2 separate regions of the Homo sapiens genome follow, and region 2 is linked to region 1. Evidence: fine-mapped expression QTL. A gene starts in region 1. The other region holds a variant in brackets. All regions are shown on one strand. Distances are from middle to middle.

Evidence for each region.
Region 2: its variant is fine-mapped to the expression of SPATA33 in ileum (GTEx, PIP 0.97).

What each region holds. Positions count from the first base shown.
Region 1 is chr16:89,656,527-89,659,353 of GRCh38, forward strand. It overlaps SPATA33 (spermatogenesis associated 33), which reads left to right and starts at 1,310. Exons shown (of 3, transcript NM_001271907.2): 1 at 1,310-1,422; 2 at 1,722-1,895. The coding sequence starts at 1,386. It overlaps CHMP1A (charged multivesicular body protein 1A), which reads right to left and starts at 1,182. Exons shown (of 7, transcript NM_002768.5): 1 at 1,056-1,182. The coding sequence starts at 1,062. RefSeq lists silencers at 909-968, 1,189-1,578 and an enhancer at 1,294-1,463.
Region 2 is chr16:89,613,638-89,616,536 of GRCh38, forward strand. It overlaps DPEP1 (dipeptidase 1), which reads left to right and starts at 5. Exons shown (of 11, transcript NM_001389466.1): 1 at 5-82. RefSeq lists enhancers at 1,169-1,873, 1,874-2,576. The variant C/G (reference allele first, on the strand shown) is at 1,504.

The DNA of each region.
Region 1 (2,827 bases):
TTCTTTGGTATCCCTGAGCACACAGCCGGCTAGCCCCAGATGTAGAAGGTAAGAATTAGGGCGACCCATTGAGCACAGAAACGCTTGTGCTGGCTCCTGCTCAAACCTCTGCTTCCCCACATGGAGAATGGACGCAAAGAGCTGCTGTGACCAGGGCCTGGCACTCAGGGAGCGCTTTCTGTCTGAGTCCTTCTGATTTGCAGTGATGCTGTTTGGGGCAGGGGGTGCAACTGTCACTTTTTCTGGTGCCCTCTGACCCGACATTCCAAGTCCCGAAAGGCCGAACAGGCATCGCACAGTCCCCCCTACCGAGCTGGCGGGAAAGGGCGCCTGACGCTGAGGAGTGCCAGGGGCGGGGGAAAGGGTCCTGGGTCGGTGGTCGGGGGTCCAGGCCCTGGGCAAGGGGTCCTGGGTCGGGAGTCTAGGTCCCGGGTCCATGGTTGGGGGTCAGAGGTCGAGGCCCCGGGGAAGGCATACCGGGTTGAGATTTGGGGATGGAGGCCCCGGGGAAGGGGTCCCGAATCGGGGGTCGGGGATCGAGGCCTGGGGGGAGGGGTCCCGGGTCGAGGGTCGAGGCCCGGGGTAAAGGATCTCGGGTTGGGGGTCGGGGGCCTGGGAAGGGTCCCGGTCGGTGGTCGGGGGTCGAGGCCCGGGAGAAGGGGTCCCGGGTCGGTGGTAGAGGCCCTGGGGAAGGGGTTCCGGGTCGGGGATCGAGGGTCGAGGCCCGGGAAAAGGGGTCCCGGGTTGGTGGTCTAGGCCCTGGGGAAGGGGTTCCGGGTCGGGTATCGGGGGACGAGGCTCGGGAAAAGGGGTCCCAGGTCGGTGGTCGAGGCCCTGGGGATGGGGTCCGGGTCGGGGATCGGGGGACGACGACCGGGAAAAGGGGTCCCAGGTCGGTGGTCGAGGCCCTGGGGATGGGGTCCCGGGGGATCGACGGTCGAGGCCCGAGCTCTCCTGAGTCCTGCCCGCGGCCCCAGGTGGGCGGAGCCCACGCCAGTGGGAGAAGCGGCCCCGCCCCGCGCGCGAGTCCCCGGAGGACGGCCGCGACCTCTTACCGTCCATGGCCACAATGACAGGAGCAGCACTCGGAGAGGGAGAAGGGACGCCAACTCCGGGCGGTGTCAGGTCCCGGCGGCGATCGAACCGACCAAGCTGCACCCGGCGGGGACTTCCGGGGTCGCCGCCCCACTTCCGGTCGCACGGGATGCTCTCGCGAGAGGATGGTGGCCGGTCCCGCCAGAGGGGCGGGGCGCGGCTGCGCGGCGCGCGGTCGCCATGGTGACGCACGCCGCTGGCGCGAGGACCTTTTGTGAGTCGCTCCCGGCTCCGCGGCCGCGGAGGTGTGGGGACCCGGGCTTGCGTCGGAGGGGGCGGTGGGCTCACCCATGGGCCTTTCCAAAAGCAAAGAGAAACCCAGGAAAGGTAAAGGAGGCGCAGGCGCTGGGCTCCCCGCGTCTCCGCCCCTGGGCGCGGGCCCAGGGCGGGGCTGGGCTGGGCGGGGCGGTGTGAGCGCAGGCGCCAGGCTCGGCCCGGTGCGAACCGTTCCTGCCGCCGAGTCCGCCACGGACGGCGCGTTTCCCGCCTGAGGCGGTTACGGAAACGCGGAGACTCGAGACTTGAAGCCAGCTTATTCTGGACCCACGCAGGCGACTGAAGACGATGGGACCCACTGCCCTGCATTCGGTAAGTCCCGGGTCTAACGGATGATCCATATATTTCAGGTGAGGAGCAAAAGAAGGGATCCACCTATTCAGTTCCAAAATCTAAGGAGAAGTTGATGGAGAAGCATTCCCAGGAAGCCAGGCAGGCAGACAGGGAGTCGGAGAAGCCTGTGGACAGCCTCCACCCGGGGGCCGGGACAGCCAAGCACCCGCCGCCGGCAGCTTCGCTGGAAGGTAGGAGACGGCGGGAGGGAGCGAAGCGAGGTCAGTGGCTTGGAGGATCTGGGGCTGGGGTGAGGAGCCTACTGTAAGACCCTACCGGATGGACACTAGTAGCAGGCACGCGCCGTAAAGATGAAACTGGTTTGTTTTGGGAACTTTATGTAGGAGGTAAATATCCAGAAATCTTAGTTGAAAACATAAGTTTAATGAAAATGTAGGTCAGTTCCCGAGTGATAAGTGCGTACCAGGTGGTCGAGGGGCTGGGGCAGTGTGCGTGTGTCTCACCTGAGGTTCTCCTCGAGGGCTGGGTATCTTGGTGCCACTGAGAATCCCTGAGCCTCCGCACACTGGAACAGAGCATTGGGAGGCCGTCCCAGGCTGGACTGTAGCTCTCCGAGGGCTGTGGGGATAAGTACATTGCGGAGGGTGACCGAGGAGTAGAACCTGGGTGCGACAAAGGTGTCTTTTATAACAGCCTAGTGTGGCCAGACCTTTGGGTGTGTGTGGGGAAGATGAGGCCCCAAAAGTAGGAAGAAGCTAGAATACAAAGTTTTCCATCAGTTTTACCACGTGGAGCTGGAAGCGTTAAATATTTTAAACAACGGAGGTGCTGCCTGGGGCGGTAGTTCACACCTGTCCTCCCAGTTATTTGGCCGAGGCAGGAGGATCTTTTGAGCCCAGGAGTTCAAGACCAGCTTGGGCAACATAGTGAGACCCTGTCTCTACAAAAAATAAATATTTAAAAATAAAAAACAAGGGCGGCATGATGAGGTCTGTGCCTACCAACAGGGGAAGCCAGTTCGCAGGGGAGGTGGCCCGGTCAGAGACCCATTGCTGTGGCCCAGTGGGAGCCAGCAAGGCCTTGCAGTAGGAATTGCAGAAGGGTCAGGCAGGGAGAACCCGCAGAGCCTGCCGTCCGAGGAGATTGGGGGCCTGTGCCAGGA
Region 2 (2,899 bases), 43 kb before region 1:
GGCCAGCCCAGCTGTGAGCCTGGCGTGGGAGCTGCCTAGGCCGGGCCCTGCCAGGGAGCAAGTCTGCATCGCAGAGGCCAGGGTGAGTGGGCTGGGGAGTCGGTGCGCCAGGGTACTGGGGTGCCCACCTGGGGTGGTGCAGGCCCGGGGACCCCAGGGCACCACTGTGGGTGGAAGCTGGGACCAGGCGTGCGGGGCAGGGGACGCGGCGGCTTCCTGGGATTCTAGGAGGCTGAGGCCAGGTGTGTGCGGCAGGGGACGGGGCGGCTTCCTGGGATTCTAGGAGGCTGGGACCAGGTGTGTGGGGCAGGGGACGAGGCAGCTTCCTGGGATTCTAGGAGGCTGGCACCAGGTGTGTGGGGCAGGGGACGCGGCTGCTTCCTGGGATTCTAGGAAACTGGGGCCAGGTGTGTGGGGCAGGGGACGCGGCTGCTTCCTGGGATTCTAGGAAACTGGGGCCAGGTGTGTGGGGCAGGGGACGCGGCGGCTTCCTGGGACTCAAGGAGGTGGGAGAGCTGCTCTCAGACCCGCCGCTGTCCTCCCACTGGCCCTCCCCGTGGTCCCTAGGATGAGGTCTGGACCCGCCAGGCCCTCCAGAGGCCCCACAACCCCGCTTGTCCACTGTGCCGGCTGTTCCTTCCTTGTGGCGCCCAGTGCGGTCCTAGGCACCCTTGGGACTCAGCTCACGTACCCCTTCCTCCAGGAAGAGTTCTCAGAGGCTGTGTGAGGAGCGCCGAGTCCCCGGACTTACTCTCTGTTCTGGAATTCTCTGCGCAGTCATCTGCCTTCCCGCCCAGCTAAGAGCAGGGCCTGTTGTCCGGCCCCACAATTTCCTTCCAGGTGGAAAGGATTTGCTGAATGAAAATCAAAGCTGTGGCCGGGCGCGGTGGCTCACGCCTGTAATCCCCACACTGTGGGAGGCCGAGGTGGGCAGATCATGAGGTCAGGAGATCGAGACCATCCTGGCTAACACGGTGAAACCCCGTCTCTAATAAAAAATACAAAAAATTAGCCGGGCGTGGTGGCGGGCGCCTGTAGTCCCAGCTACTCGGGAGGCTGAAGCAGGAGAATGGCGTGAACCCGGGAGGCGGAGGTTGCGGTGAGCTGAGATCGTGCCACTGCACTCCAGCCTGAGTGACAGAGCGAGACTCCGTATCCAAAAAAATAAAAGAAAAATCTTCTCCCCGGGTAGGGTGCGGGGAGCTTCAGGGTTATCACAGGACATGCTAGAGAGAAAGCCTTGGGCACAGGCGGAAGTTGGAGTCTGGAGCTGCGGCTGGGCTAGCGAAGGGCAGAACCTACTTCGGCCAATGGCTCTTACACAGCCAAGCTATTTTCATGGTGAGGGTCTAGTAGCCTCCACATCTCTTGGCGAATTCTTGCTGATTGGCGTCTGACCCCATGGAGAAGCTCAGTGGGTGTCATGGGTGGAAGGGGGCATCTAGGGCCTCCAAACGTGGAAGTGTCTCTAAAATACCTCCCGCTGGGCCTCAGTCTCCTTGT[C/G]GACAAAAGGTCAGCTTTGACAAATCTCCAGTCGGAGGCCAGGAGCAGACGGGGAGGGTCCCTCAGTCCCTGCTTGCAGCTTCAGGGGGACGTAGGCTGCGGTGGACGGACACTGAGCCCCAAAGCGGCCTCTCAGAGCCGCCCCTGAGGGGTGGCCTCACAGGTCGGGCTGAGGCTCCCAGCTCCCACTGGGTACAGAGCGGGCAGGCGGGCCTGGCAGGGCAGTGGTGCTGGTCTACACGCAGCTCTGGAGTCTCTGGACCTGTGTCCTGTGCGTACATCCTGGCTCCATCTCCCATGAGCCAGGGGGCTGGACCTGTCTTCTCTACCTCAGTTTCCAAGAGTAGGAGACAGGGGTAACAGCAGCCTTGCTCTCAGGGGTGAGGGCGTGGGTTAAAGGGCAGGACACCCATGGAAGCAGTGGTGGCTCCGAGCACCTGCTCAGCCTTCCCAGGTCTTCAGAGCCCACAGGCAGAGCCCACCCTGAGGGAGGAGCAGCTGGTTCTTGGGTGAAGTGAGCCCCCAGGACCCCGCCTTGCAGGACCCCGCGAGGCCCCGGTGAACTGGAGCCGGGAACCGGCCCCACGGAGGCACGTTGGGATTTGGCCACCAGAGGGCAGGAGCTGCAGCAGCCAGGCAGGCGGTCAACACGGGGGCCCCGGGGTCCTGGCCGGCTGGTGGGGTGTGAATTGGAGAGGAGTGGGCTGTGTGGAGGGAGACCAAGCACCAAGGCCCGCCCTGGCCTCTGAGTGTCCACCCCTTTCACAGGCCCATTTCACAGATACTGAGGCCCAAAGGCGCAGGGCTCAGGCGTCCCCTACGTGTCGTGTCCCCAGGCAGGAGAATTACTTGAACCTGGGAGGCAGAGGTTTCAGTGAGCTGAGATCACACCACTGCACTCCAGCCTGGGTGACAGAGCAAGACTTCATCTCAAAAAAAAAACACAAAAAGTGAATTTAAAATGCTCCCTGAACTCCAGCTGGGGTGCGCAGCAGGAGGCTGGGTCCGTGGGGCTTCGGGGGCTGGGCTGGGGGTTCAGGTGGGTGGGGGAGTCAGTGCTGTGGGGATAGGGCTCAGAGCCCAGAAACAGACAAGCCCACACAGGTAGCCAGTGTCGACGAAACAGGAGAGGCTGGGACCTGTGCCCTGGAAGGACACAGCCAGCGGGTCCTGGGTCACCCACTCCGGGGCTGACCGGGCACAGTTTCACAGAGCAGTATGGCCCAGCCAGCTGTGAGAGGATCGGACAGACGGGCGGAAAGGAGGGGAGACAGCGGGTGTGCTCGGGGCTGTGCCGGGAGGGGTCCTTGGATGGAGGAGGGGGTCGCCAGGAGGCATCTGCATCCCCGGGGTGGTGAAGACCCAGCGTGTATGGCCGACCTCGAGGACAGGGCGA